7 separate regions of the Homo sapiens genome follow, and regions 1, 2, 3, 5, 6 and 7 are each reported to be linked to region 4. Evidence: microRNA targets listed by miRTarBase, many of them from high-throughput screens and not tested one by one. Region 4 holds a microRNA gene; each other region holds the end of a gene's coding sequence.
The links. Region 4 holds the annotated microRNA hsa-miR-100-3p (CAAGCUUGUAUCUAUAGGUAUG, at 1,719-1,740, shown strand). A microRNA usually pairs through its seed, bases 2 to 8, with sites in the 3' UTR of a target mRNA and lowers its output. Matches are read on the target gene's strand: a 7mer-m8 pairs with bases 2 to 8, a 7mer-A1 pairs with bases 2 to 7 and ends in A, and an 8mer does both.

Region 1 (4,386 bases), not on the chromosome of region 4:
TTTGGAACTTTTTTGCATAAGAAGGGCTGTGATGAGTATCTTTGTTATAAATCTTTGGCTGCATTTTGGATGCGCTTCTTCAGCCCCAACCCTCACCCACTCCTAGATTTCTAGAAGGGGGATTAATGAAGGAAGTTGTATAGTCAGAAGATAGGAAAGCAAAACTCTACCTAGGGTAATTCCCACCAAAAAGTAGCTCTGCACCTATCATAGAAGCTAAAAAATGGACTAGCCATTTTCCCTCGGTAAGGACTTGATGCTTCCCACATCACATCATTCACGAAGAGGTGGCTAGTAGGAGTCTCTGTGTCAGGAATTGCCTTTCTCTAGAGGCCCCGCTGGATTATGGCTTTGAGGGGCAGCTGGGGCTGTGATTTCACTGGTTTATCTCTTGGTTTTGTGGCCGGCAGAGGAGAGAGTACCCTCCCAGGCCTGGGAGTGTGGTTCCACTGCGCCGCGGTAGAACCAGCTACGCAACCTTGAGCACCGTCATTTCCCCTTTTGGGGCCAGTTTCCTCCTATGTAAAACAAGGAAGAGGAGGGAGGAGGAATTGGAGTTTGACCAGATTTCATTATTGTTGCTGTTTAAGCAGCAGAACCCTTATTACAAATTAAACCTTATCAGAACCCCAATCTATAAAATGGATTAAGGTTCGGTTGCCCTGATAGACGTGAGTGGGGAGGAGTGGGGGAGGGGCCCCAGTTTGAAAACTCTGGCCTAGAAGATGAAAGTTTCATTCTAGTTCAGTTCCGTTCTCTTCCCTATTGCTGAAGGAAAGAAAAAAAAATCATTTTTCATCTGTATTTAAATCCTCCTAATGTGCTGATTGATGAAATCTTTTCCCTTAAGGGCAATTTGGAAATCAGACAAAGTGAAGCACAAAGCCATGGATGTTTAGAGAGAGAGTGAGCGGTATGTGAGACACACTGAAAGGGTGACCCTGGCACTTCTAAGAAGGCAGCAGCACAATGGACTCTTCGAAAGAAGCAGTGTCAGAGTTTATTCCCCTGTTGGCACCGCCTCCCACAGTGGGGGCGAATTGCTTGTTTTTACCCTCCCTTTCCTGGAGTCATTTCAGACCAAATTTGAGTCCACAATTGCTAGCAATTGGAAACCCAGAGTAACCTACGGACAGGTATTTTATTGAAGGCCAAACACGGTAAAAATATGGTGGGGGGATAGATGGGACAAAAGAGTTTCCTCTCGCCCCTGGGTTTTTGGAGCACCCGGGTTGAGGGGCCAGGGGAGATGAGGCTCACTGACCAGGCAGCTTGCAGGTTTGCTCCAATCACAGCAGCAAGGATTGAAGCACCAACCAGCCGGGAGGGGGGCGAGGTCTGTGGCCCTGGGATTGGGAGAAGGGGGAGTGGTACCAAGGCTAAGACTGAACCCGAACCCGAGCCTGGACGCGCGGCAGGACCAGGAGGAGGACTGGGTGGAGGGCAAAGCGTATGGGTCTGTAAATCAACGCCGGCCCCCTCCCACCCCATGCTGCACAGTGGGGGATGGAATGCGGGGGGTGAGGGTTGGCAGTGGAAATGTCTTAGGGGGCTGGTGCTGCCTTCCCAGGGAGACCCGACCTTTCTTGAAGAGGCGGAGTGGGTTTAGTCTCCAGGATCCGCAGTGATGTGTAAAAAGCGGGCACGACCCCCGAAGCCTCAGAAAGCCCCCTCCCCACCCCCCCACCAGGCCCTCCCCGGCCCGCAGGTGAATGACTGGCCCACACAAAGGAAGCCGGCTGGAAATGTGGAATTCGGACCAATTTACGGGAGACTCTGTCGCCTAGGGTCCCAGCGGACCTCAAGCAAAGAAACCTGTGGTCAGTAGTGGATGAGGATAAAAACAGTGCACCAGGCCAAGCTTATTGGAAAGGCTGAGTTTAGTTATTCTGGGATAGCGAGGTAACAGGATTAAAGGGATTAAGGAAATCACCTCAAACAGCTGAGGAGGGGGTAAAAAAACACTGGTTCTATTTGTTTTCTTCCTAGGCCCCAAACAGATACACTGGGGCCGTGTGGCTGGGCGCGAAACTAAAGGCCCTTCGGGGGGCACAGTGGAATGGCCAAGGGTCAGGGACTGGAGGAAAGTGGGGAGGGGGATGGAGTGGGGAGGGGGATGGAGTAGAAAGCGGGCTCGAGACTCTGGATGAAAAGGAGCCTTCTCTGGAAAACAAATAGGTGGACTGAGTTGACATGTTAAAAACAAAACGCCTGGGAGGAGTTTCGGAGATCTTTGAAAATCTAAGGAGTACTTTTTAATACCAAATCTTCCAGCGCTGAATGTTGACTCCGGCGGTTCAGCTACCAGGGTTGAAACGTATTTGTTTCCTGCTGGGGATCCCTGTAACCATTTATTTTTAATAGGATCATCGAGATTTCCGAAGGGTTTTCGTTTTGTAAATATTTCAGCTAGGCTCAAATGTCTTCCCGCCCCAGTGCACAAAGGTAAAAGTGCCCCGTTTTTGGTCGGTTTCAGCGGCCGCGCCTTTCCAGCCCCGCCTCGCGTGGCTGCGGCAGCAGACACTTTCAGCAGACGCTCACTGCGATCAACAAGTGCGCGGCCGCGGGCTCTGCGCATTAGCTACTACTGTGTGCCCGCTCTCGGGAGACGCTCCTGGAAGACTCGGAACTCTGTTCCGAGTTTCAGTTGAGAATATTGGAAGCTGGTGTATGGTGGATCACCAGTAGTTAAAAGGAAACCATTTCAGATTATGCTTGCCTCCCCCCAGGTCCCACCCCGCCCCTAGGATGGGATCTCAGTTGTAAAACCGAGTGTTGGTTCCTCCCCAACCTGCAAAAAAGTTTCAGGGCCGCAAAATTATCAGGACTCCATCATGTTGGTTATAAAATTTATTGATCTCATTTAGGAATTAAGAGTAAAAGCTTGAAAACCCTGAAACAAAGTAGCCCCTCCCCACTACCCAAACGAAATCTGAACACATTAGCGCGAAGAAATATCAAACAGATCACGGCAGAAATCACCAACTCAACATGATTGGACAGAAGCTGTCCCGCGGCCAGGGGCGGCGAGGCGGGAGACACACGCACACCTGGCTATAAATTAACATTGGCTTTAGCTGCCGCGCTGCTTGGAGCGGTCAGCGCCCCAAAAAACCACGAGGAAAACAGACGCGACACGACTGGGGGCGTAGGCGTTGCAGTTCTCCAGCTGGCCTCACCCGATACTATGTTTCTCCCATTCACTCCTTGGCTAACTGCAAACTAACAAGACAACATTTTCAAATGTAACAGAATAACCCTGGAACTCAGGAGGAGGAGTGGGGGCTGTTTTTTCTTTGCAAATAACACAGCGATTCCCAGCCTACAAAGGTGAAAGGAGCAGCGGCGTGGGGCAAGAGAGCTCTCTAGAAGTCCCATTTTCGCTGCTCCTGACTTATTTTTGCTTTTGTACAAAACCCGACAGCTACAGCAAAACTTTCAGCCCTCCCCATCATCGGTACAAGGCAACAGTCCCAGGCAAGCAAAGCTAAACAAGGCGTCCCAACTTGGGGGTGCGGGGCGGGAGTGGGGGTGGGGGTGGGGAACAAGGGTGGACGAGCGCAGGCCGGTGCTCAGATGTGGGTCAGCGGCACCGTTCCGTTGACTGCAGTCCCGGCGCCCTGGTAGTGCTGGTGCACGCCGTGCAGGCGACCGCCGGGCAGCGGAGAGGCGGCGTCGGCCGCGTCCCCGCCGGGTGGCAGGTACATGCTGATCATGTCGCGCAGGTCGCCGAGGCACGCGCGCTGAGAGTGCGATGCGATGGCGGGCGGCGGCGAGCTGGGCTCAGACTTCACTACCGAGCCCATGGGGCCCAGGCTCATGGCGGCTGCGGCCGCAGCTGCGGCCGCGGCGGTGGCGGGCTGCTGCCCGTAGGCGGCGGCCGCGGCTGCTGTGGCTGAGGGCGCCATGCCCCCGTAGCCCGAGGCGGCGGCGGCCGCGGCAGCGACGTTCATGTAGCTCTGAGCGCCGGGCGGCATCATTGGGCTGTACTGCAGGCCGGCCATGTCGTAGCGGTGCATCGGCGGCAGCGCGGGCGGCGGCGGCGGGCTGCTCATGCTCGGGGGCTGCGCGTAGCCCAGCTGCTCCTGCACCAGCGAGTACGCGCCGTTGGCCCAGCCGTTCACGTGCGTGTACGTGTCCAGGCGCTGGCCCACGCCCACCGGACTGCTGGCGGCAGCGGCTGCGGCCGCGGCAGCGGCGGCGGCGGCCGCGGCACCGGGAGGCAGGAGGCCGCTGGGCAGGGAGTACTTATCTTTCTTGAGCAGCGTCTTGGTCTTGCGGCGCGGTCGGTACTTGTAGTCCGGATACTCCTTCATGTGCACGGCGCGAAGTCGCTTGGCCTCGTCGATGAATGGTCGCTTCTCGGCGTCGGTCAGCAGTTTCCAG
Region 2 (4,336 bases), not on the chromosome of region 4:
CATTATGTCTAATTTCCTGCTACAATAGATTCATCATTCTCCTTTGCACAAGTCATAGAAATCAAGTATTTAGCCTCAGGAAGTGAGAAATTAATTATACCTTTTAACTTTATTTGGTGATACATAATTTATTTTAGAACTAAAGCCTTTTTGCAAGATGATTTTCATCTTGTATATCATAATATAAAGCAGTGGTCCCCAACCTTTTTGGCACCAGGGACTGGTTTTCTGGAAGACAGTTTTTCCATAGCCACATTGTGGTGGCGTGGTTTCTGGATGACACTGTTTCCACCTCAGATCGTGCTCTATGAGAATCTAATGCCGCCACTGATCTAACAGGAGGCAGGCCTCAGGCTGTAATGCCCACCACTCACCTCCTGTTGTTAATGCTTTAATCACTTCAGCTAGTTTGTCCTTTGAACAGAGGTAGTTTAAAATCAGCAGTCTTCATTAAAGACAAAATTATTGGATTTATCAAATATGTCTAGGTAAATGAAATAAACTGGTGATTTCAAGACACGAACATGACTCTAATTCATTAGACAGTTATTAGCTGTCTTCTACCCCTGCTTGTGCCCATTAAATTAGACATTTCAGTCTTTTAGGCTCTTCAAAATTAAAAATAAACTACAATTGGTATCAATATAGCACTGTGTTTGAGGAAAAAAATTCAGTGAAGGGCTATACTTTTTCCTGGTGGGTTGTAGGAAAATGATAGACTTTTGATGTGTTATTTGGCTTCTCCAGGATGATGTTAATGTTTTCATTCCTGCCTGTTTTGGGGGGTTTTTGTCTGTAGCTCTTGCTTCTGGTGGCTCTCTTCCAATAACATCACTTGATGCAACTGGGAACCTGGTATTTGCCAATGCGGGAGGAGCCCCCAACATCGTGACTGCCCCTCTGTTCCTGAACCCTCAGAACCTCTCTCTGCTCACCAGCAACCCTGTTAGCTTGGTCTCTGCCGCCGCAGCATCTGCAGGGAACTCTGCACCTGTAGCCAGCCTTCACGCCACCTCCACCTCTGCTGAGTCCATCCAGAACTCTCTCTTCACAGTGGCCTCTGCCAGCGGGGCTGCGTCCACCACCACCACCGCCTCCAAGGCACAGTGAGCTGGGCAGAGCTGGGCTGCCAGAAGCCTTTTTCACTCTGCAGTGTGATTGGACTGCCAGCCAGGTTAATAAACTGAAAAATGTGATTGGCTTCCTCTCGCCGTGTTGTGAGGGCAAAGGAGAGAAGGGAGAAAAAAAAAAAAAAACCACACACACCCATACACACATACCAGAAAAAGAAAGAAAGGATGGAGACGGAACATTTGCCTAATTTTGTAATAAAACACTGTCTTTTCAGGATTGCTTCATGGATTGGAGAACTTTCTAACCAAAAATTAAAAAAAAAAAAAAAAAAAGAAACAAAAAAATCAAAAACAAACAAAAATAAGTGAAAGGACTACTTATCATTTCCAGCAGTCATGATGACAAGTTAAGGTGGGTTACCAATTCCAATATAGGAAGGGGATTTCTTGTTTGTCTAAATTTCTTTTTTTCTTAAAAAAAAAAAATCATTTTTATGGGTCTGTTGTACAGGCCATTAAGTCATAACAAGGTGTTTATAATCGTATCAATTGTGTTGGGGGTTCCTTTCTTAACTGGTACAATTTAGGCAGGCCTGTATTACTGTATTATTATTGTTGTTGTTGTTATTGTTTTATATATATAGTTTGGACATGTTTATTATCTCTTGCTCCTGGATCCTATTTCAGTGAGCTCCCACACTGTGGGGAGGGAGGGTTTTGGGGTAAGGGGAGACTTCTGTTCTTAACTGTGGGGAATGTTCTTGCTGGTTTCCTTATCCTTGATGACTCTTACAGAGGTGCTAGAAAATTATTTTCTTTTGCCACTTATGCAAGAGGCTTGGTGCAGAAGCTGAAGGCAGTGTGTGCAAACACTCCCATTCCACACACGCCCCTTCCCCTCCCCACATCAGGTGGTGCCTTTGGAGCACTTTTGTGTAGGAAGGAATTCCTGCTGAACTGTAGCTCTCACTCACCCCCAAATCATTGAATGACCCTGAGGCCCAGTTCCTGTGGTGCAACAGTGCTGCTTTCTGCTACTTTCAATGGGAACAGCTGTACATGTTGCAGGGCAGGATTTGGTTCCCAAGAGCAAAGACTACTGCAGACACCTGACTTGGTGGTTCTCCTGATTTCTTATCTCCTGAAAAATGCTCCTGCTGTTGGTGTGTTTGTTTGTTTGTTCCATTTTGTGGAAGTTTTTCATCCAAACTTTAACTAACTTGGCAAAGAAAAAAAACTGACTTACTGAAATTGGGAAACTTTTCCCTTCTTTTATTTTCTAAAGGAATTCTACTAGACTATTTTCCATTGATAATATATACAAAAGAGGTGTGATGAGAAGGGTATAAGGTTACCACCTTTTCCTCTAGAGAGCCACAGACTTCCTTTCCACTGGATGGTTTATAAATTCCTCTAACCCTGAGATTCTTCTTGGTTCTCTGACTAAAGGAGGCACTTATTAGCCGGGCTGGGATCTGTAGAACCTTTGAAGAAGGACTTTGAGCAGGAACTTTGCACACACCTTAAGTGTCTCCTTGGTTTGTTCATGATGCTCCTGCTAGGTAGGTCTAAATGGCAATACACATCTCTTTATTCAATGTAGAAAGTAATTAGCTCTGTAATTATTTTCAGGGTGTTTGTAGACTATATAAATGAGCCCATTGAAAAGGAAGAGTTTGTGAAAGTGGATGAAGAGGAATAAGGGTAACTTGGAGATTAAATTCCTTTTTTTGTCAGTGTACTGTTGTTATGCCATCTGTACCAAAAAATTTTCCAAAAGACTGGATCACTGCAGTGCAGCTCATCTAAGTTCCCCTTCTTATTGGAGTTAAAGGTTCCCATTTGGTGGCTGTGGGTGCTTGCTTAAATCTCTGGTGGTCCCAAGACTGCACTTTTTCTCCCTTTCGAGCTGGGGATGTAGAGAGAACTTACAGGTGATTTTTATTCTGATTGCTTTTGTTTGTGTCCACAAGGGAGCTTGGATTCTGTGTACTTGTCTCTTTCCCATTGTCCAGTAAGGCAGTAAATACAGACACAATGTGTACTTTTGTGTGTGATTCAAGTGGGAGACAGTCTGTTAAAAGGTCAGAAACATTTTAGTCCCCTTTAAAATATTTCTTTTAGTTTATTTCTATCGTGTTTTATTTCACAGATATTTAATTACCACCCCTAAATTTCCTCCTCTTACCCTTCACCTTCCCTAAAATCCTTCCAAAATCAGTGAACTGCAAGCAGGGAAACTAACAAATGTCCATTCACCCTTTTTGTGTGGTGTGTTTTTTTATGTTTTGTTTTGTTTTTTAACTAAGCTTGAACCAAAGTCAATTTTTAGCAAGCTGCTGTACTAATGGACTAGTTGATAACGTGCAGTTCAGACACATCGAGGAGATAGATGCTACTGACAATTTCTTTTTCATTTGTCTTTATTAATTTTATATGAAAGTTGCTGCTTGTTTTTAATCTTTTATGTTGGTAAATTGTGATATCCTCTGGGCAGACATTAACTTGATGTTTAACTAGTTTATTAGGTTGGTGTGTAAATAGAATGACAATGTCAATTACTAATTTCTCTCCTCTCCATTCACTTTTTCTCTGTTGTAGTTAAATTTAATCTTCTATCCTGACTTGACATCTCTACCTTTAGTCTGTGGAAATGATTTTAGGGCTATCAGTAATGCTGTAGCTGCCCATAATAATGAGTCCCTCCCTTGGGAGTGGTGAAACTTAGAAGGAAGGATTCAGGGAGGGAAATGCTGGTACCCAGTATACTGGATTAGAAGTTATAGCATTAATTTCTCAAAATTGCTACCAAAGGAAGTGTGGAGTCCCAAGGGACTCAAGCTCAGTGAGGTAAGACAAAGGGCAAGGAAAGGCTGTTTGGGTGGTTTTTTTTTCCCCACATATGGTTTAGAAAATGATCCCTTTCCCAAACAAAACTCACCAACAGACTTTAATATTAGAAAAGATACTAAGCTTTAAATGTCAATACAGTGGTCTTTTATTCCCTGCCCTGTCTATATTTTCTACTCAATTTGGGATAAGGGGATTTTATGTGAAGCACTTGATGAGGGTAGACCAGCATAAAAAATCTGTTTAAAAGAAGAAATAATCTTTAGGAAAAGATAAATCTTTAGATAAAAATAAATTTTTTTCTCTTTTTTTACTTATTTAAAAATAAGTTGTGAAATGAAAGGTACATTTACACATGTACACACGAAACACTAATATAGCTTTTTGGTGGTTGTTTAGTTTAAAATCAACTC
Region 3 (4,386 bases), not on the chromosome of region 4:
CAAAGTATTACCTGTTAGCAAAGCTGATTTCTCCAGTCTCAAGTGAACCAGTTATAGCCATTTCCTAGCCTAGCATGTCAGAATATTTCATAATGTGACTGTCTTGAAAACAAAGATGGTCAACTTTGATTATGTTGCTCCATTGCTGCTTCTCTGACTTAAAGGCCATCAGTTTGACTTCTTGCTGAAAAAGCAATAGAACACCACAATCAGGTTTACTTATTCACTCAACAATCATTTATTGTTTGTGTGCAAGGCACTGTGTTAGGTGCCAAGAGCAGAAGGAAGAAGATACAAATATGAATGGGCATATTCTGCCCTCCAGGAACATACAATCTAAGAGTGATTAATTGCATACAAATAACTGTAATACCAGATAGAATGTGGTAAGTGCCATGGGAGATACTACTATAGGAAGCTTTCTTAGCTCTTAACTTCAAAGACCAGGTCAGGTTTTGTCCTACTGTAGTCTGTGGCAGGCATGAAAAGGCAGCTGAGGGGACCTGCTAGGCTTTGATGAACTGAGCTGCATCTTGGATTTCGCTTCCTCTTCTTTCTCAGCCGAGGTTACGGTGATTAGCAAGGGCAGTTGCTACCACTGAAAGGATAGAAGGAAAAAGGCAAGGGAAAATGATACGTACTAAGATGCACATAGGAGCACTCGATAGTAGTCTATGGACCGGGCCCTGGGTACTGCCATTATAGAGGGAAGGGGAAGAGGAGTGGTAAGGGAGAGAGAACACTGGACTAAGCCTCAGCATTCAGATGTTCCCAGTTACAACACCCTGAACGATCTCTAGGCCTCAGCATTCAGATGTTCCCAGTTACAACACCCTGAACGATCTCTAGGCCTCAGCATTCAGATGTTCCCAGTTACAACACCCTGAACGATCTCTAGGCCTCAGCATTCAGATGTTCCCAGTTACAACACCCTGAACGATCTCTAGGCCTCAGCATTCAGATGTTCCCAGTTACAACACCCTGAACGATCTCTAGGCCTCAGCATTCAGATGTTCCCAGTTACAACACCCTGAACGATCTCTAGGCCTCAGCATTCAGATGTTCCCAGTTACAACACCCTGAACGATCTCTAGGCCTCAGCATTCAGATGTTCCCAGTTACAACACCCTGAACGATCTCTAGGCCTCAGTTTATCTTTGGGATGAGGGAGTTAGACAAAATGATCTCTAAGGTCCTCTACAACTCTCCAATCAATGAAAAGGGGAGAACATTTATAGCATCTTAAACATGGCTTTTTAAAGTCAGTGCTTTTATCCCCCTTTCATGATTTGTAGAAGTGCCCCTAAAAAAATTGTTTTTGAGCTGGGCGTGGTGGCTCACACCAGTAATCCCAACATCTGGGAGGCCGAGGCAGGAGAATCGCTTGAGGCCAGTAATTTTGATACCAGCCTAGGCAACATAGCAAGACCTCTGTCTCTACAAAAAATTCGCTGGGCATGGTGGTGTGCACCTACTCCCAACTACTTGGGAAGCTGAGGCAGGAGGACTGCTTGAGTCCAGGAGTTCAAGGCTGCAGTGTACCACGATTGCGCCAGTGCACTCCAGCTTGGGCGACAGGGCAAGACTCTGTCTCTAATTAAAAAAAAAAAAAATTTAACTACAGTGATCCCCCACTTTCCTGGCTTTGATAGACAAGCAATACAAGAAGGAAGAGTTTTTGTTTTTAACCACAGCTAATGTTTCAGAAGTAAGGAGCTTTGACCTCTGTTATAAACATGGCACCTTTCTGATTTGCTTAGCCTCAGCAAGCCTGATGTACTGTAAACTGACAGCCCAAAGGCTCTCTCAACTGCATGAGTCACTGTTTTGGTTACTAAGAATATCTGAATGAGAAGGTGAAACATTTTGGTCAAAAGTCATCTACATGGCCAGGCGCAGTGGCTCACACCTATAATCCCAGCACTTTGGGAGACCAAGGCAGGCAGATCGTTTGAGGTCAGGAGTTTGAGACCAGCCTGGCCAACATGGTGAAACCCCATCTCTACTAAAAATACAAAAATTAGCCAGGAGTAGCTAGCCGTAATCCCAGCTACTTGGGAGGCTGAGGCAGGAGAATCGCTTGAACCCAGAAAGCAGAGGTTGCAGTGAGCTGAGATCACACCACTGCACTCCAGCCTGGGCAACACAGCAAGACCCCATCTCAAAAAAAAAAAAAAAAAGATCTCTACCGCCTTTAAGTAGCTTATCTCTCAGTTGCAAGGATTTAAGTTCTCCAACAGCTTCGTTGCTTTAAAAAGCTTGAGCAGAACATGAAGAGGCACAGGAAGTTAGGAGGAAAGGCAGAGTGAAGGGACTGTTTTCTAAGCAAAAGCTGCCTCAGAGGGAAAAGGTATGAAAAAGAGATGCAAGCAAAGTAATGTCTGTTACACAGCTTCTTGGCCCTGTGCCTGACAGAAATATAAGATTACCACAAGGAGCAATTTCTGTGACCCCAAAGAGGCCAGCAGAGCCAAGTTCACTTTGCCTACCATTTCACCGTTCCTTTTGTGTGTTGCCAGGGCACTACTTCCAGCCTTGAAACATGGTCTGTCTGCACAGGGAGTTTGGCTTAGTGGCTCCCTTGCTTCTGCCAAGGCTAGACCTGGTCAAGGACTAAAAGGACATGTAACATTTAATCTTTTGGGTACCACACACCCTGTTTAGCCACCCAATTCTATCTCAACTAGAGTGAATAATGCCTTTGGATTCTCCCACAGAACACAGTCATGTTTTGCCCAAATGCCAGTGCTTAAGATAGCAACATTAAACCACAAACTAGGACTGAGGATAAATTGCCAGGTTTATTTTACCCTGTAAGAGCTGGCAAACAGAGCTAAGGAGGTGAACTGCTCTCCCACCTGCAAGAGTTTACAATATAACTCCAAGGAACAGAGTTTGGTTGTATATTGCTATGTCCATGAAATGGCTTGCATTTGGTCTCCCAGTTCACAACGTGGTCAGTGCAGAGGGATAGAAGTGTTGATCTGGCACCACGTGGCGCACCAAAAGGCTCAATTTCACAGACAGCAAATAACTATTCCTGCTTCTAATCTGATTAGCATCTTCTACCCAAACCCATGAAAATACGTTATCAGGGAGATCAAATACAATTGGAATAACTGCAATACGAAAACCAGACTGGCAAGAGCCAGTGGGGATTTTCTGGGTTTGGGGGTGATTGTGGAGGTAGTAGCTTTTAAATGAAAGCTCTTGACAAAATATTTCCTTTCTATCAGCAGGAACTACATTGTACCTGGGGAAAATGGCTTATAAGGTTTCACAAATTGTGCAAAGAAATATATATATTTTGAGATGCCATTCTCTGTTGACATTCTTGTGAAAAGACTTTTAGCTGACAGTCTCATAAATCTTTAAACCATATTAAATGAAGTTGTCACAACACAAGCAAAAAGGGTAATTTTTCTTCTTTTGTCCAGATCAACAGTGTTGTTTTGTACTCTAACTTTTCAGTAGACCTGAAGGGCACCTTTGCTCGCTCATCTCTTCAGTTTGCCCTTTAAAGTGTGTTCTTTATTTCTTTGGCATGCAAAGCTGGGATGGCAGTCCTGTTCCTACATACAAATAACCACCTTCAACATACAGAGGATGAAAAACACCTTCAAGTGTTGGCGTTCAGGCTAAAGTTGAGAACTAGAAATCTACAGAAACTCAATTCATGTTTTTTAAATACTTTATATGGTAAAAATACAGCAAAAATAGTTTTTTGTTCCAAGAGGAAAATATATACTGCTATGGTCACGGTTCTAAGGATGATTTAAGAAGTCTCTGGCTCCTCAACTGTGCACTGTAGTGTAGGCTGACTTCAACCACGGCTTCTCCAGCTTCAGTCATTTATCAAAGCTAAGATCATACTGTGGAAAGAAGAAATGAATGTCACTAATGTTTTCTCAGGAATGTTCCTACAGAGCCTGGTTTGTCCAGACTTGCGTCCCTAAGGTTCACAAAGGAACAATCATTTGAGTAAAAGACAATCATTCATACCCAAAGGAAAGAATATATTAGGATCTTTCATGTCCAAACTTTTTCACTAAAAAAGAGTGACTGGGGGTGGGGAGTTGGGGGAAGTACAACTTAAAACCTATGTTAGGCTATAGTTAAAAAAATAAAAACAAAACAAAACAAAAACAACCTAGCTCAGTTAAAAAAAAACAAAACAAAACAAAAAACACCTATGTCCAGAAAAAAAAACCTTTAAATTCTCTAGCCAGATACATACTGTTCTATGCCTGGAACCTCTTCTCCCCATCCCACCACTCCATCAAAGCAGTAACTTCTTACTCAGGTTTTGTGATTGGCTCTAGGGCACCTCGTTGGGGAAGCTGGCCTCTCAGCCCAGGGCAGTTGCACAGCCTCCTTCCACAGCTC
Region 4 (4,386 bases):
CTTCACAGCACCAGCAGGCTCTGAGCAATTGTACCACAGCTCACTTGTGATGAGATGGGGAAACAACAAAGTATCTATGAATGGTTATGTCTCAGTTTCTGTTCATCGTACTGTTGGTTTCCTGTTCTCTTTATTTAACTTTTTAGGTTGCATACACGAGGGCCTGCTCTTTTCTCTGAATAATTCCTCAATTCAGCTCTGTCTTTTTTTGTTCCCCTTGGTAGGGCTTCAGTTCATCTCCCAGATTCTTTTTTTTTTTTTTTTTTTTTTTTTTTGAGACAAAATCTCACTCTGTTGCCTAGGCTGGAGTGCAGTGGCACAATCTCGGCTCATTGCAACCTCTGCCTCCCAGGCTCAAGCAACTCTCATGCCTCAGCCTCCAGAGTAGCTGGGATTACAGGCGCACGCCACCATGCCCAGCTAATTTTTTTGTATTTTTAGTAGAGACAGGGTTTCACCCTGTTGGCCAGGCTGGTCTTGAACTCCTGACCTCAAGTGATCTGCCAGCCTTGGGCTCCCAAAGTGCTGGGATTACACACATGAGCCACCAGTGCCTGGCCCCAGATTCTTGAGAAAGGAGTGAATGTCCATTTTTTGAGGCAAATGAGATAATTATTTTGAGAGCCAGGATCCATAATTATAGCTAACAAAAGTTAAAAAGGTCTCTTTTTAGGTCCTGTAAAGGGATGGAGTCATGTGTGTTTCCCAGCATCTAGGACAGGGAGTTATTTAGCTGTATAATATATGTCCCTGAAGTGCTTATGATTATGCCTGTCTTCAATACAATTCACAAAAGGCGTCGTTAATGAAAGTCCATTGTCTTGGATGTTCCCTTCTTATATGTAGAACATTGGCTTTGCAGAAAAAAAATGTTATGTTGACAAATGCAATCATTTTATAAGAAGGTCTCTGAAACAGATTCATCCCTGTTTTTTCAAACAGTATTGCGGGGGGCGGGGGGTGCGGGGGGAAGGAGGAACAACTATGTAATTTCTTCTATGGTTCAAATTTTACAGAGTACACCCAAACTTGCTCATTGTTGGTGTTTGAATCAATAATAAGTGTGGGGATGGGATGGGGGTGGGAACAAAAATGCAAACTTTTCCCGAAGATGGATCTTAATATACCTGAAAATCTACTCTAGAGTGGTTTTCAAAAAAAAAAAAAATATACCTATAAATCCGTTGGTAGTACTTGCTAAGTTTATTCTAGTTGTTTTCCAGAATGCAAATAGGAAAATGAAAATTTCACCATCATTTTTAATGTAATGACAGGTATTTAAAGGAATGGACTTGCATTTGGGCTCTCATGTGTTCTTTCTCTCTGCCTACAATTTAAAGAATTTTCTTTATTCTGCTGGTTTGCCATTTTGGTATCACTTTGCCCAGATTATGTGTTCAGCAGTGAATAAATGAGTCTTCCATATATAAACAGTAAAATGATGAGGTTTACCTAAAGTCCACTGGATTTGTGGAAAAAGTGGAAACCAAGGGAAGCACGTTGGGGAGAACATAGAAGATATTGCTTAACTTTTGCTTTTGTGAGAGTGGGACGAAGTCCTTTCCATTTATGGCATAAAACAATTGAATGGTAGACTCTTTTATTGGATTAATGGTTGTAATATTTTATTTTCAGACATGTCACAGCCCCAAAAGAGAGAAGATATTGAGGCCTGTTGCCACAAACCCGTAGATCCGAACTTGTGGTATTAGTCCGCACAAGCTTGTATCTATAGGTATGTGTCTGTTAGGCAATCTCACGGACCTGGGGCTTTGCTTATATGCCATTCAATATCCCTTCGAGTTATTTCATTCTCCTTCTCTTCCCCTTAGTTTCCTTTAAGAGTGATAAAAATGGAAAAGGGGGCTGAGGTGGAGGAAGGAGACCTTTTGTCCTGAAATGAATGAGGTTCTTCAATGATGAATTAATAGGCTGGCCCTCAATTCCCATATCTCTTGTAACTGGTCTCTGCTGTCAAATTAGAAGGCTGAGCTTACAGGTGAGGCAGCAAGAATTTGAGTGATTGGAACAACTTACTGTTGAGTGATGAGTAAAGAGATAAACAAGGGTTTGTTTTGTTTTCTGTAAGCCTAATTGTTTTCAAAGTTATTATGATATTTTCTGGAAAGTGGCAGATGTGTTTACAGGACCAATTTCACCGTGATTTGGGTTTTTGGGTTTTCCTTTGTTGCAATTCTTCCTCCCCCAATTTCCCCAATAATTTTGCTTCTGAAGATAAGGACTGATAAATCAGAATGGATGTGTTTAACTGCCTAACTATTTATACTTCTATTTATATCCAGCAGTGTAAGAAGGACTTCTTATAAAAAAGAGATCGCCTGTTTAGGTCCAAATTCATATTTGGCCAGAGCTGTTTTATAAGTCTTTATCCTGTTTAAAACGCTGGAATGAAAATAATTTTATCCTCTTGCCTCTTAAATGTCACCATTGTGCCAGGATTGAAAAGCTAAACTGACCACAGATCAAAGCAAAACTGGCTATATTTGTTTCATTCCAACAATGTGAGCTGAGGAGTCTGTAAACAGAACTAGAACCCAGGGTGAAAAGTTGATCAGATTTGGATGACTCTAAAACTTTTGCATGCCCTTTTGGTAAAACATAGTGCCAGAAGTTCCCTTAAGATGTGTGTGTGTGTGTGTGTGTGTGTGTGTGTGTGTGTGTGTGTCCTCTTCTAACAAAAAAAGTCAACATGAAGTAGTTGGTGGGTTAACATTAGAGAAAAGTTTGAAATTCAAGTGGATAAATTCTGTCTCCTCTTAAGACCTACTCAGGAATAACTAAAACTCTTTCTTTTATCCAGTATATAGAAATGAGATTTTGCATTTCCGAATTAGGACAGCCTAGATACAGATGACATATGTATAAAGGGTAGAATTTGGAATTCTGTAATTGCTAGACCAAGACGACATTGTTTCCATGCATTTCCTTTGCATAGCACTGAGGAGGGTTGTCTATGGTGCTCAACCCCCTGCTTGCCAAGAAAGCATTGCTTTATTATAGAATGATGGCATATTACAACCCAAAGTGAAAGACTGTCCTCATTGGTGTGTGTTGTATAAATTGTTTGCCTAAGGCCTTTATCTACACAAAAAGCAAACAATTTGCTTGGTTAGTTTTATATGCCTCTTTGAAGTGGTTAACTTGGAATGAATAAACTGCTAGCAAGTTAAATCAGTACCTCCACTAGATAAATACTTGTTTGATAACGGCAAAATCACATCTCTACTCATCATCCTTTAACCTGCTGTTAAGTGTACTACCATGGGATTAGCGGTGGAGTTCATGGATCCATGGGGACCATGAGCTCCCAGTATTCCCCGTACAGGAACAATACTGGGACTGCAAAATGGCCAGTGGGTGACTGCCAGATTACTTCTTTTAAGGAGGTTTTTAAAAACACATTATCCCAAGAAAAAAAGATTATATAGAGCAGTTGGCCCTTTCAAAGTTTCTAAACGGCTTCAAACTTTGATTCATCTGGTTAGAAAATATTCTAATGGGAAGCCCAAAGCCCCTGGACATTGGCCACAAGAAACAGGATATTAAATATTTTACATGATGAAATTCAGTATTTTTCCCTCCTTCCATGTTCATGAATGAATGGTTCTGTAGATATTAATTATTCCTTTGAGGCTCCCTCAGAGTGTACCAAATATCCTACAGGAATCATGCAGAAAGTAAAATAATTTCAGAATTTCCCCAGAAAGGCTTGGAAGAAATATTTCAACAGCTATTATTGCATGGAGGAAATGGAATGGGTATAAAGCAAACTAGTTTTATTAAATTTCTCAAATCATCACTATCAAAATATATTTAAGATGTAATACCAGGACATGGTTTAGATTTGTTTTTTTAAAACAGGAAAAGAAACTTATTCCGAGAAATGCATTTGATAAAGCAACTCACCCTGAGCAACTCACCCTGCAACATCAGAGTTTGAGGAGGGAGAAGCTGAGATTTAGCTTGAGAAGTTTTCTTATTTATATTTCAAAATTAATAGATGTATTTCTTTACATGGGAAAAATGGTATGTGTATGATAGAATTAATTTTGAATTTTAAACTAATATGATTTCTTAGTTTTCCAATGTGCTTACGAATCATTCCTCAATATTTGTTAGGTCCTGTGGATCCTTATCTGTTGACTATGGTATTTAATCCCATCAAATGCCACCTAGGCTCTCTAATTAAGATTTTTAAAGCCTCTACTGCCTGTAATAGCACTGAATTTGTACAGAGAAGTCGATGTGAATGACTCTTCAAAGATATTCAAAGATTTATTAGAACCTAACATGGTAGTTAATAAAGTATGAATTGGAAAAAAAGTCACTTTTTACATTGGGCATAGCCGTAAGGCTAGAAAAATT
Region 5 (4,386 bases), not on the chromosome of region 4:
GCCCAGGAGTTCGAGACCAGACTGGGCAACATGGCAAAACCCTGTCTCTACAAAAAAAGATTAACCAGGCATGGTGGCTCACACCTGGAGTCCCAGCTACTTGGGAGGCTGAGGTGGGAGGGTCCCTTGAACCCAGAAGTTCAAGACTGCAGTGAGTCATGATCACACCACTGCACTCCAGCCAAGAGAATAAGACCCTGTCTCAAAAATTAAAAGGGGGACGGGGGTGGCAAGGAACTTTTTTGTACCTGTTAGCATAAAAGGTGATCTGCATCATAAAGTCGTCTCATTGTCATTATTTGCGGAAGGTACATGCTTTTTTCTAACAGCAACATATACATTCTTCCAGAAAAATTCATTTGATTTTTCTAACTTATTTTTTGTTTCCATCAATGTTTTCTTTTCAGACTTGGCTTCAACCAACTCAGGACATAGCGATTGCTCAGTTTCTATGGGAAACCTTTCTCCTCTGGCCTCCCCAGCCAACCTCTTACAGCAGACTGAGGACCAAATTCCTTCCAACCTAGAAGGACCGTTTGTGAACTTACTGCCTCCCCTGCTGCAAGAGGACTATCTCCTGAGCCTCGGGGAGGAGGAAGGCATCAGCGATCTCTTCGATGCTTACGATTTGGAAAAGCTCCCACTGGTGGAAGACTTCATGTGTAGTTGATTATGCTTCGTGTGAACTCTCCTTAAAAACCGATATTTTTTTATCATGGAACCAGAACATCTGTCATGCAGTGTTGTCCCTTCCTACCTTCTTCCTCCAAGAGAGTATCATGAAGTAAACTACAAACTTCAGAAGAAAGCTGACATTTTAATGAATTTTTTAAAAAATTAATAAACAAATTGTCTAAACGCACAGTTGCAGGCTCCCTTGGGAAAGCCCTGCTTTGCTCCAGGCTCCAAGATCTCCTGGCTAAGTCAGCAAGTGAGAAAATGTGCAATCAGGTGTCTCTCACCCCGAATTGTCCTTCCTCCTTCCTCCCCGGATTGGCTTGCTGTGCCTGACGGATGGGCTGTAGAATGGGGTCTGGCCACCTGGCCTGCTGGGAAACAGCAATCTTCCTTAATAGCATTTCAAGCCGTGCCTTCTCCGCAGAATGCATGTCTTTGAGGTCTGCTAATATGGAATGGAACTGCAGCAAATGCAAACTTGAAGTCATGCAAAAGTATGAAATGGATTTCTTCAGCTCTTCTTAGGAATATTTAAATTACTGTCATAATTCAGTTTAAGCTATGAACTGTGTGTCCCAGTAGGAGGTCAAGAAAACCTCCACAGCCTTCTGGATGAAGAACCTGTTTTCAAATATACTTGTTGCAGATACAGAAGACTAGTAGAGTTCTGCCACTCTAAGCTGTTGTGGATTTTCCTGTCTCCATGAACCACTCCCATTCCCCCGTCCCCAATGTGTTTGTGAGTTTCCAGTTGATTTGTAGCAAATGCCTACTTAGTTCTTTGTGGATTGTTCTAGACTTTTAATTTTTTTAGCTGCCATTTAAGCATTCCTGTGGCACCCATCACCATTTCAATTTAATTGTTTACTTTGAAGCGGTTTTTGCAAATTCATATTACTTAAGCAGAGGGAGAGAACCTCTACTGATCAGAGCATCTAAACCTGTGTGATCTAAGGTTTATCAGCCTCTGCAAGGAGCTTTGTCCCATCGTGCTTCCATTCCCAGGAGGGGGAGCTTGGAGCGAGTCAGTCCTGGGGCTTGCTGACATGGGTGGCCCATTGGAAAGGAGAACCAGGTCAGATGATGTAACAGCCCCAAGGAGCAGCAGGCATGGGTCCCTCCATCCTTGGGCTTCCCGGGCCCCTGTGACAGGGGAAAGGGCTCTCTTACACCGCACTCAGGGAGACCACTTCTCAGGATGGGGTCAGATGGAGAGACCTCTAGGGAGAAAGACATCCCCATTGTGTGAGTGGCATTTCCTTAAGCTGGCAGGAACAGGGAGCAGCCCTGTGTCGGGGGCTGGAATAGTTCTGGCCAGACCCCGTTCCCCTTCCTCTATGAAGGAATAAGTTGGACCAAGGGAAGTCGGGGACGTAAAAAATGAAGCAAAACAATGCCAGGGTGTCTCCCGCTTTACTCTTCAGGAATGGTGTCCCAAGTTGGAGGCTTTGTGTCAGCTGCAAATCCTACCAGTTATGTCCAAGAATGGCTTTCCCTCGGGCAGGTGGCAGCGGCCATCTCCCACTGGGAATATGGCGTAGTATCTCCGGTCCATTCCTTGGATGCTAAGGACTGCGGGAATGAGGGAGTCAGATAAAGAACAAACCTCGAAACGAACAGTTAAATTGAAATGCTATGTGCCTGACCCAATGGTAGGCACATAGTAGGCACTCAACTCATATGTTTAATTGAATTGAAAATATCCCTTAGGAAAAAAAAAAAACACACAAAAAACCACAAGAGCCCCAGCCAGTTTACTCCAGGTAGATTTCCACAATATGCAAAGTGGTGGTGGGGTCAAGACAGATGACACCAGCACTTTAAACTCTTTGTGTGGGTATGCGTGGGTGTATGTTTGGGAAGAAAAACAAAGGTGCAGACTATCTTCCTTTTTTTCTTCTTCAGCCTCCATCCCTGGCCTCCTCCCCTCACACACACTGGACTTGGTACAAAATGTCGGTGTGGTCCTAGATGAAGCATTGGGGTGGGGGAGGGAGAGGGAGCTTTGTGTTAAGTGCCTACTGGAAATGCACTGTGGGGTTTTTTCCTGTATGGGAAACCATTTATGCCAAGCTTTTCCCCATTTCCCATATTTATCTCATCTGGTTAGCTGCCTCTGCTTCCAGCTTTGTGTAATTCTCTTTGCCAGCTGCACAAAGCTGATTTTTTCCAAAGTCTAAAGACTGAGCTCACCTGGCTAGATTGTTGTGTGTTTTGTTGAATTTTTTCATAATGTAATGCCGTATTTATTGTTTTTAAAATGAAAGGAATACTAATAAGTCTTAAAAGTTCCTTCATGCATAAGATTTTTTTCCAGTTACTGGGTTTAACTGGTGTACATTAATTAGATGTCCATACTGTATTTTGTTTGCATTAAGTAATTTTCTTTTTGACTTAGTATCCGGCACACAAAGTGGGTTAGTACTACAGTATTTGCGTTACTTTAAGTACTAAGTATGCAGGTTTCCTGGTACCATTGAGTTGCTGCTATTAAAGCTCACACACGAAATGGCTAAAAGTTACAAGTGTGCAAATTATGACTGCGTGAGCCTTAGAAAATAAAATGTATAAAGGGCAACACATGAGCTGTCAAACAGTGTTAGGAGTGTGTTTATATGTACAGAGTTGTGCATAGCAATCGTTTTATTTAAGTTGATATGTAGTCTACTCACATTTTCATTATTTAGCAATTTTGTACAAAAATAGCAATTAATTTGTAAACACTGCCAGAATACTTTCTAGCTGCTTTGTAATTTTTTAAGAGTGTTATTTTGTTTTTGTTTTTCTGTTCTTTGTTGTGGCTCTTGTTTTCATTTTTGTTGTACGTGTAGATCTGTAAATAAAATTGCAGTATTTAAAGCTTAAGCTTTCAGGAAAAAGAAAATAAGAATTCAGTGTGTGCATGACAACTCGTGTGTATGAGAAGGAGGGATATGAAGGAAGATGGCTTGCAGAGTAAGTCGGGTGGCAATTGTCAGGGTGTGGGAATTTCTTTTCCTACGGGGTACGTGATTTTGTAAAAAGGAAGTATTTCTCCCAAAATTGGGAGTAGGCAAACTACTAATCAGTTTAGCTTTGTGTTGTATGCTAGTTTAAAAAAGAAAATATGTAATATAATGTAAAAAAAAACAAAAAAAAGCTTTTATGATGGATTTTGTAAATAGATTTGTTACAGGGTGACCTGTTCTCTAGCTGTGATCTTACCACTTCAAATGGGTGTAATTTGAATAAATTTTGTATGGTAAAGGATCAATAAAATGATTTTTTTTAAGAGTTCAGGCTTGTGGATGGGTTTTCTTTAATATTATCTTGTGCTCCTCTATTAATTGAATTTTTTTCATTTTCTTTTTCTTTTTTTTTTTTTTGTTTTGTTTTTTGAGGCAGAGTCAATCACTCTCACCCAGGCTGGAGTGCAGTGGCACAATCTTGGTTCACTGCAACCTCCACCTCCCGGGATCAAGTGATTCACCTGCCTCAGCCTCCTGAGTAGCTGGGACTACAGACACCCGCCACCACGACTGGCTAATTTTTGTATTTTGAGTAGAGACGGAGTTTCACCATGTTGGCCAGGCTGGTCTCGAACTCCTGACCTCAAGTGATCCGCCTGCCTCGGCCTCCCAAAGTGCTGGGATTACAGGCATGAGCCACCGCGCCCAGCCTATTAATTGAATTTTTTAAAACATTCTTAAACAAGTTAAGGAGAAAGGC
Region 6 (4,386 bases), not on the chromosome of region 4:
TTTAGGGTTAGTTCACAGCTTATTCAGCATCAGAGAATTCATACTGAAGAAAGATACCATGAATGCAATGAGTGTGGCAAAGCCTTCAAGCATAGCTCAGGCCTTATTAGACACCAGAAAATTCATACTGGAGAAAAACCATATCTGTGTAATGAATGTGGGAAGGGCTTCGGGCAGAGTTCTGAGCTTATCCGGCATCAGAGAATTCATACAGGGGACAAACCCTATGAATGTAATGAATGTGGGAAAACTTTTGGCCAGAACTCAGAGATTATTAGACATATTAGAATTCATACTGGTGAGAAGCCCTATGTATGTAAGGAATGTGGGAAGGCCTTCAGGGGGAACTCAGAACTTCTTAGACATGAGAGAATTCACACTGGAGAGAAACCCTATGAATGCTTTGAGTGTGGAAAGGCTTTCAGGCGGACCTCTCACCTTATTGTCCACCAGAGAATTCATACTGGAGAGAAACCCCATCAATGTAATGAGTGTGCAAGAACCTTTTGGGATAATTCTGAGCTGCTTCTCCACCAGAAAATTCATATTGGAGAGAAACCTTATGAATGTAGCGAGTGTGAGAAAACATTTAGCCAGCATTCCCAACTTATCATACATCAGAGAATTCACACTGGAGAGAAGCCTTATGAGTGCCAAGAATGTCAGAAGACTTTTAGTCGGAGCTCTCACCTCCTCCGACATCAAAGTGTTCACTGTATGGAGTAATCTGCAAAATAGGAAAGCTTTTAGTGGAAAAGCTAAAGTCCAACTTATTCATTTGTTCATAATATGCAAATATGCACCCCAAGTATTCAAATCCAATGAATGGACAGAACCTCCTCTGTCCTCCCACTGATTTTAAATAGTTGGTTGAAGAAGATGAGGCACTTTTTTTTTTTTTTTTTTAAGCATTGGGGTCTTGCTCTGTTGCCCAGGATGGGATGCAGTGGCACAGTCGTAACTCACTGCTTCCTTGAACTCCTGGGCTCAAACAGTCCTCCTGCCTCAGCCTTCCAAATAGCTAGGACTGCAGGCACTAATGAGGCACTTTTATGAATTATTCATTGAGAGGTTTCAGTGTGCTAAGTTAAATCATAAAAGCTCTTTCAGGCCTTAATTTCCCCTCTGTCCTTCCTTCCCCTTCTCCTCCCCCAGTGGATCACATAACAAACATTAAGGGTCTGTACCAGCCATCTTTCCTAAATTACTCTTCAGCAAAATTGTGGGAACAGGATTCCACCACCTCCTAAGAATGAGAGTTGACTCATTGACTGTTACCCCCTGAAATATTAGAAAGTCATAATTTAGAAGACACACCTCATTCTCCTGTCCACTGTTTAGCATTGGAATAATTTAGTAAGCTGTTATTAGCTTCAAAGTCGTCCAGCCCTGCTATGAAGTTACTTTAGAAGATGGCAGCATTAATGAAGAAGCAGGCTCATTTCACATCTGTCAGGCTTCCTTATTCATCTGAAGAGGCTGCCATGATGGAGGAACTGACAGGCAATTTACAACGGGATTATAAGTGAAGGCCTTAGAATCCAGAGGGGCCGATTAGGCAACACCAGGGGATAAACAATTGAGGTCACACTGCTCGGCATGGGCAGAAGCAGCTCTTCAGGAGCTGTCCACACTTCAGGGGTGCTCAGACTGACTGCTCCTAAGAATTCTGCTGCATATATTTTTAGCCCCATCTCCTGCCACTGCTGACAGATATTGTGACAGTAAGTAGCAGACAGGACTGTGGCTTCACCTCCTCCGGGCACCTGGCTACAGTGATGAGTCAGTTCACCTGATGACAAACCAGGGTCTGGCCTTGCCAAAGCACTTAAGTTCTCATGACCTGGACCGCACTGGAGGCCCTGGCTAAGTCAGGATGTCGTAGCCTCTTCTTGGTTTTGCCCCTTGGCCTTGAAATTCTTTTTTCTTGAATAACTTTAAAAAAATAGAGATAAAGTCTTGCTATGTTGCCCAGGCTGGTCTTGAATGCCTGGGCTCCAGCAATCTTTTTGCCTCAACTTCCCAAAGTATTGAGATTACAGGTGTGAGCTACCATGCCCGGCCTTGAAATTCTTTCTTCGCTATGTCTGCATGTTTTTTGTGTTCTGTATTTATTTCTTCTCCAAGGAAACAGCCTACATTTTCCATGTGTCCATGTTTCTGAGGCCGTGGGTGACAGTGGGAATTGCACTAATGGGGGCCCAACAGGCCTGGGGGCTGGTCTTAGCGCTAGACCTTGAACAAGGCACTTCACCTGCTGGTCTCCAATTTTCTCCTCTGTAAAATGAAAGAGTTGAACTAAGTGATCTCAAAAGTTTCAACCAGCCCGATAATTCCTTAATTCTTTAAAAATTTAACTTTATATATCTTTATTATTCTTTAACCTCATCTTTGTTACACTAATATTAGTCACTAATATTTATTGAGTGTTTACTACCTGACAGGCAGAGTGCCAGTTTACATTTTAATTTTCACATCATTTCTATGATGTGGGTACTCATTTTTTTAAAGCTTTATGAAGGTATAATTTACGTACTATAAAATTCACCTGTTTTAAGTGTTCAGTTGAATGATTTTTAATTTACATAGTGGTGCAACCATCAATGATGTGGGTATTCTTACCCCAATTTAAAAGATAAGAAGGGGCAGTGTTAAGTAATTGACCCATGATTCCACAGCTAGTAAGAGCGACAGCCAAGACTCCAAACCTGGTTGATGCTCTTAACCACTGTGCTATGCCGCAGGTAGGCAGATTCATTACTGCCTTATCTGAAACCCTTTGCACAGTTTCTATTACTGATTTCTATGTAGATTTGAATATAACAAATTTAAATCATGTCCTTGGTAACAGAACTGATCACAGCCAAAAAAAATTCACCAAATGGGTTTATTCTGTACTCCAATATAGGTGTCTTCCCAGGTTTATATCCTTGGCTTGAGAAAAGGGTTGTACAAATAGATGATTGCAGAGTTTCCACATCCTTCCAGATACCTCTGCCTCTAGCAGTCACACTCTTAGTAAGGGAAGTTGTTTGATTTACTTCTTCCCTTAGGTTGATTACAAGTGAAGTGCGCCGTCTTATTCCTTTTTCATTGCTGGAGCACAAATTGAATTGTGCCCAGACCGTATCTTTCTCACATGAAACCTGGATCTCACCTATCCCTTCCATGCCTGATTCCCGTGTTTGCATATTTTATTTCCACATTTACCTCTTGTCAGCCCTGACAGAGAATTTGGCACCCCTTCAAGCTTCTCCTAAACAATCTATGCACACAAACACCCCTGAGCAATATGGACTTCACTGAAGATAGTGTGTAAGCAAAGGAGAAGAGTTCACATTGTGCATCCTATTAGACATTTTGTTCTCAGAAGTACCTTACTGGCCAAACCAATGAAGGTTTTCCTCTTGTCCTCCCCTCTCAAGGCTCAGTCACCTCAACTTCTTTTTGCCTACTAGATATCCAATCCATCACCTCGCCTCCCCTGGCCCTAGCTCAATTACCCTCTTAAACCCATTCCTGCTCAGCAAAACTTCCTCTAGTTCACCATTCATTCATTTGAACATTAGGAGGCAATTTAGTGACCTGTTGTACCTGACCATGTTCTTAAGGGGGAGGTCTCACGTCTCATTCCCAGAAAAGTCTACCATATATAGATACATATTCCCCGCCCCGCCCCAGATTTCTGGTGAATGAAATCACTTGTATCTTATTAGGTACATATACGCAAATCCTTAACCTCAATTCTCTGTCCTCTTCATGTCTTACCCAGATATCTCAGGAAGATTTCTCTTTTCCTTCTGTTTGCCTCCCTCTTCGACTTACTTGGGAGTCAGCATCTGACCACAGTCGTGACTGGTAATGATGATTTGTGCAAATACTATCAAGGAAAGGACATGAATTGTCTTAATTTTAGACCCATTAAAAAACCGCACAGGCCTCAATCTTAAAAGTCCTATCTAAATACCCAGAAATACCCTTCAGAATTTTTGAAGCTATGCCCATGTACAAAATTTTCTTCCTTCCCTAATTTTAATGGTATACTAACACCTTAGGTAAATAAAATATTTCTTTACTATTTTATTGATACAATGCCTTTGTCATGTTTATTCCAAATTGCATTATGTTTCACTATGGATTTAATAAGGACTTTGTTTACCAGTTTCATCCCCACCTTGTAAGTTTCACCTTACCTAAATACCCCCACATGCTTGTTAGCTTCTGGTTTTGCATACAGTGTACATTCTGTGTCCTTGATCTGCTTTGCTTGGTGAGATCCTTCATCTTAAATAACAGGACAAGTGTTATCTATTGTGCGTGTGTTGGTATACACGTTTTTCTTCATGATTAGCAACTTAAAATATTCCGGACCATTTGTATGGCCTT
Region 7 (4,386 bases), not on the chromosome of region 4:
TGGGGAACTTTATTGCATGACCATTAACATTACTACAGGTCATGAGAAATGATAAAGAATAGATGCATTTGTTCAGTGGATGTAAATATGAGGGAAGGCAAATGTCTTTTGCTCCATTCTAGAAGTGATCTGGCTGTAAGACAGATGTACATGTATGTGAGTGCCATAATGTGGACTTGTAGAAAACACTTACTCATATTCATGGGGTAAGATGTTCCTTCATTTGCAATGGGTTTTATTGATTCACATGCTAGCAAAGGGACCCATGTGCTCAAGGTGTTTCTTTCTTTCAGGTACCTTTGGAAAAGCTCTCAGGAGACCTCACCTAGATGCCTATTCAAGCTTTGGACAGCCATCAGATTGTCAGCCAAGAGCCTTTTATTTGAAAGCTCATTCTTCCCCAGACTTGGACTCTGGGTCAGAGGAAGATGGGAAAGAAAGGACAGATTTTCAGGAAGAAAATCACATTTGTACCTTTAAACAGACTTTAGAAAACTACAGGACTCCAAATTTTCAGTCTTATGACTTGGACACATAGACTGAATGAGACCAAAGGAAAAGCTTAACATACTACCTCAAGTGAACTTTTATTTAAAAGAGAGAGAATCTTATGTTTTTTAAATGGAGTTATGAATTTTAAAAGGATAAAAATGCTTTATTTATACAGATGAACCAAAATTACAAAAAGTTATGAAAATTTTTATACTGGGAATGATGCTCATATAAGAATACCTTTTTAAACTATTTTTTAACTTTGTTTTATGCAAAAAAGTATCTTACGTAAATTAATGATATAAATCATGATTATTTTATGTATTTTTATAATGCCAGATTTCTTTTTATGGAAAATGAGTTACTAAAGCATTTTAAATAATACCTGCCTTGTACCATTTTTTAAATAGAAGTTACTTCATTATATTTTGCACATTATATTTAATAAAATGTGTCAATTTGATGCCAAGCCCCATTTATACAATAACAATTTTTATTATTTTTAGCACAATTTAGGCTTAATTAGTTCACATTATCATGTCTCAAACGGATGGGAATTATATTTAGCCCATTAAAGTATGAACAAAAATGACCGTTTTTTCTACCTCCCAGGATTGTTGTAATACAGATTGAAATCAGATTGTGCATATGAAAGCACAATTGTAAACGAGAAGGAGCTACAGAGATTTAAGGTACATTATTTCTAAATCTACGAACAAAAAAAGATTTGTTGTTATAATCTGGTGTAATATAGTACAACTACCATAAATCACTGCTCAATTCATGTTTCTTTAATTATAATAATGGTTTACGTGGTCTAATGCCTTATGCTTATCCAAGTAGTTTCACTTTTGCCGTCCCTTTTCTTACAGCAAGCGAGTGGTTTATTGCATATGTCTATAGCTAAAATGGCTCTAGCAGAAGTGGACTTTCATGCACTGTTCCAGGTTGTAATGAGATGCTGCTAGAATTGTTTTCTGTTTTTATTGATTTTCTGCTGGAAGAGCAGTTTGTATATAAATGGTACTTCTAAGCTATTTTTGAACAATTACCAAAATATTTTCTTTGATCATCAAGGTTTGGTTAAAAACTAAGTATAAAATATCTTACTTAAGCACATAAAACTAAAACATTTGTTTTAAAACAGTATTCATTGAAAAATGTAATTACATGGCAGGCATATATACACAGAAAAATGAATATAACCATATTTTCTTTTTTTTTTTAATTATACTTTAAGTTTTAGGGTACATGTGTACAACGTGCAGGTTAGTTACATATGTATACATGTGCCATGTTGGTGTGCTGAACCCAGTAACTCATCATTTAACATTAGGTATATCTCCAAATGCTATCCCTCCCTGCTCCCCTCACCCCGCAACAGGCCCCAGTGTGTGATGTTCCCCTTCCTGTGTCCATGTGTTCTCATTGGAATATAACCATATTTTCAAAACTAGATGACACAATTCAAAGTAACTGAAAGGAAAAAAAATTCAGTTTAATAATTCAGATTATAAAACTTTTTTCTTCTGTAGTAAATTCTAGCTCATATGTGTAGTTTAAAGAAAAACCCTCTTGCTCAAGATAAATTGGCACAAAAGGAGTTAATATAGCACAATAAGCTTTAAAAGTCAACTAACCTCCAAGGTGTGAATTTATGCCATTGTCTTGTGTTTGAACTAAACTGAAAGCAGCTATTCAAAAAGCAGATTCTTCTTAGAGAATATGTTGGGGTTAAAGTCTTCCTGCTTTTAGTGAGTTTCGAGCTTTGTTGCTTGTGAGCCAGAAGCCTGGAACCCAGATTGCAGTCGATTTTCCTGCTTTAATTTAGACGCCAGAATCCAAGACAGGAAGTTGATCCTTCCTTGGACCACCAGTGACTAAGTACAGAGAAGTAATTTCGTATGCTTTGGCTTGATCATATTGCCAGATTTTCAAAATTTTATTGTTAATTTGTCTTCATTATTGCCAGATGGGGCCTTTTTCAGTTATTATGAACTTCTTTTAAAGGATTTAATTTTTCCGTACTTAAGCACAAAGGTTTAAATCATTAACGCCTGAAATTCAAAAATTAGATTCACTCTACATCAGTATGATTTTACCCTTTTACTGGGTGTATGTGCTGAAATTTGTGGATTAGATGTAATGTTAACTGTCTGGAGAAAGAGTAGGAACTTGATTTCTCTTTGACATTTGCAGGAAAAGAATATATATGATTTTGAGACTCCAAATTGAATTAACAAAATCAATCTAGTAGGTGGTAAGATAACCTAAAATAACATAGACTCAAGGTAAAAAGCCTAATGTAGATAAATGTCACATTGCTTGGAGGAATACTTAAAAATTCCAGTTTAATCATCCTATGCTTTTTGATAGGAGTTCATGTACAACATATTTTAATAGATGTTCACAAAATTTCTGTATTATTTATATCTTAATTCCACTATTGGCACTAATTGTAGGATATTGGGGAAAAATATTCCTTAGTTCTGGCAAAATTTTATGAAAGTTAAGTATCTGTGGAATATATATAATTTATTTTCACAGCCTTTCTACAGAAAGAAACCAAAAGTTACTGCTCAGAATAGAGCCACACTACTTTTTAAAGATTGACAGAACCAAGGAAAGTGGTTTGGTGTTTCTACACACTTGGGAGGCTTTATTTCTTTCAATTCAATGTGATAGGAAGTAATTTATAACCAATATTATGATAGATGTGCTACACTGGTATTCTTCAAGAGAATGGGAACCAAATGTCCTTGCAAAATGCCTGAGCTGTCCTTCCCACTCTTGCGATCTGAAATGATCAGATTTATGTAATAGGATAACTTTGAACTCATTGTTTAAGACAGCATTCTGTTAACACATTGGATAACACAGTACCCTGCCAAGAAAACAATTAGTCTTCAAAGAAAGGTACAGTTTCTTCATGAATTGAATAATTTTCATACTCCAGAAATATCTAGGTGCCAGAACTTAACCTTTTTTATGGGGCATTTCTTAAACTAATGTGTAATAGGAAAGTCCTGAAATAATTGTCTTGCTTGGTCTCAAACGTGAGCTAAAATGGCACAGAAGTATTTTCATTGGTATTTTATTTTAATAGAGAAGAGGTTTTGCCCACATATTTTCTGAATTATCTCAATATCTTGGGCCATTTGGTTTTTTGTTGTTGTTGAAAAATCTGTTACTGAATGGGATGTCTTTTGACAAAGACATTTTATTTTACTCAAGGTATATTATTAAGATAAAACATATGAAAGTCTATATTTTAGATTAAAATGTGCATAATTTATCAAGTCCATTCTTACTACTGTAAAAATTACAAGTTCATTTTTCATTCCTATTTTTTTTTTAGTGTCAGATCTGGATTCCATATCTGCCTGCATGATGGTTGATATCCATGAATACCTGGAAAGTTAAACCAACATTCACATGTGGCTTTTAATTAAAATTACATGTTTTAATTAAAGAAATTTTAAGAATACAGTTTAAAGAATATGACAAGGGAATTCACAACTGCTGTATAGTTCTTGCTTTTCTTCTATAATTTTTTTATATACCTTTGTTGGGTTTCATGTTGAACTTTGTCTTCTATTTTACAAGTATAACTTTTTTCTTAATTCTTTTTTTCTTCAGTACAACACCTAATACTTTTATGAGGTTATCGTAGTTGTTTTGTTGGTTATTTTGAGATTACTTCCTATGGTTTTATTTTGATCTAACTACAGCTCAGAGTTGAAATTTGGTAACAATACACTCAGTTTTCAAACACATTTCTTATGCTCTGGTGATGTGAAAAATGAATAAAATCTTATTCTAATTATCAGTGGGACAGGAAGCACGTTCATGAATAAATACTTATTATCGATGTGTTAAATGCTATAGCTCAGT

Region 1: the mRNA of SOX3 is a reported target of hsa-miR-100-3p. Seed matches in the 3' UTR shown: 7mer-m8 at 2,881-2,887.
Region 2: the mRNA of POU2F1 is a reported target of hsa-miR-100-3p. The part of its 3' UTR that is shown has no 7-base or 8-base seed match.
Region 3: the mRNA of CNIH4 is a reported target of hsa-miR-100-3p. Seed matches in the 3' UTR shown: 7mer-m8 at 2,256-2,262.
Region 5: miRTarBase lists E2F3 as a target of hsa-miR-100-3p. Seed matches in the 3' UTR shown: 7mer-m8 at 2,748-2,754 and 7mer-A1 at 3,536-3,542.
Region 6: miRTarBase lists ZFP3 as a target of hsa-miR-100-3p. Seed matches in the 3' UTR shown: 7mer-m8 at 3,247-3,253.
Region 7: miRTarBase lists LRIG3 as a target of hsa-miR-100-3p. Seed matches in the 3' UTR shown: 7mer-A1 at 559-565.

The regions. Positions count from the first base shown.
Region 1 is chrX:140,500,148-140,504,533 of GRCh38, forward strand. SOX3 (SRY-box transcription factor 3) reads right to left here. Exons shown (of 1, transcript NM_005634.3): 1 at 2,838-4,386. The coding sequence ends at 3,573. Among named protein-coding and RNA genes, the nearest start is that of SOX3, 2.7 kb to the right of the region's middle.
Region 2 is chr1:167,414,701-167,419,036 of GRCh38, forward strand. It overlaps POU2F1 (POU class 2 homeobox 1), which reads left to right. Exons shown (of 16, transcript NM_002697.4): 16 at 800-4,336. The coding sequence ends at 1,110. Among named protein-coding and RNA genes, the nearest start is that of CD247, 100 kb to the right of the region's middle.
Region 3 is chr1:224,375,281-224,379,666 of GRCh38, reverse strand. It overlaps CNIH4 (cornichon family member 4), which reads right to left. Exons shown (of 5, transcript NM_014184.4): 5 at 215-3,872. The coding sequence ends at 3,845. Among named protein-coding and RNA genes, the nearest start is that of CNIH4, 21 kb to the right of the region's middle. RefSeq lists enhancers at 1,611-1,700, 2,071-2,120.
Region 4 is chr11:122,149,594-122,153,979 of GRCh38, reverse strand. It overlaps MIR100 (microRNA 100), which reads left to right and starts at 1,672; the gene lies at 1,672-1,751. The region is part of intron 4 of MIR100HG (mir-100-let-7a-2-mir-125b-1 cluster host gene); the gene reads left to right. MIR10526 (microRNA 10526) reads left to right here and starts at 1,824; the gene lies at 1,824-1,877.
Region 5 is chr6:20,489,761-20,494,146 of GRCh38, forward strand. E2F3 (E2F transcription factor 3) reads left to right here. Exons shown (of 7, transcript NM_001949.5): 7 at 408-3,954. The coding sequence ends at 670. Among named protein-coding and RNA genes, the nearest start is that of CDKAL1, 43 kb to the right of the region's middle.
Region 6 is chr17:5,092,288-5,096,673 of GRCh38, forward strand. ZFP3 (ZFP3 zinc finger protein) reads left to right here. Exons shown (of 2, transcript NM_153018.3): 2 at 1-4,087. The coding sequence ends at 726. Among named protein-coding and RNA genes, the nearest start is that of ZFP3, 16 kb to the left of the region's middle.
Region 7 is chr12:58,868,724-58,873,109 of GRCh38, reverse strand. It overlaps LRIG3 (leucine rich repeats and immunoglobulin like domains 3), which reads left to right. Exons shown (of 19, transcript NM_153377.5): 19 at 294-955. The coding sequence ends at 538. Among named protein-coding and RNA genes, the nearest start is that of LRIG3, 50 kb to the left of the region's middle.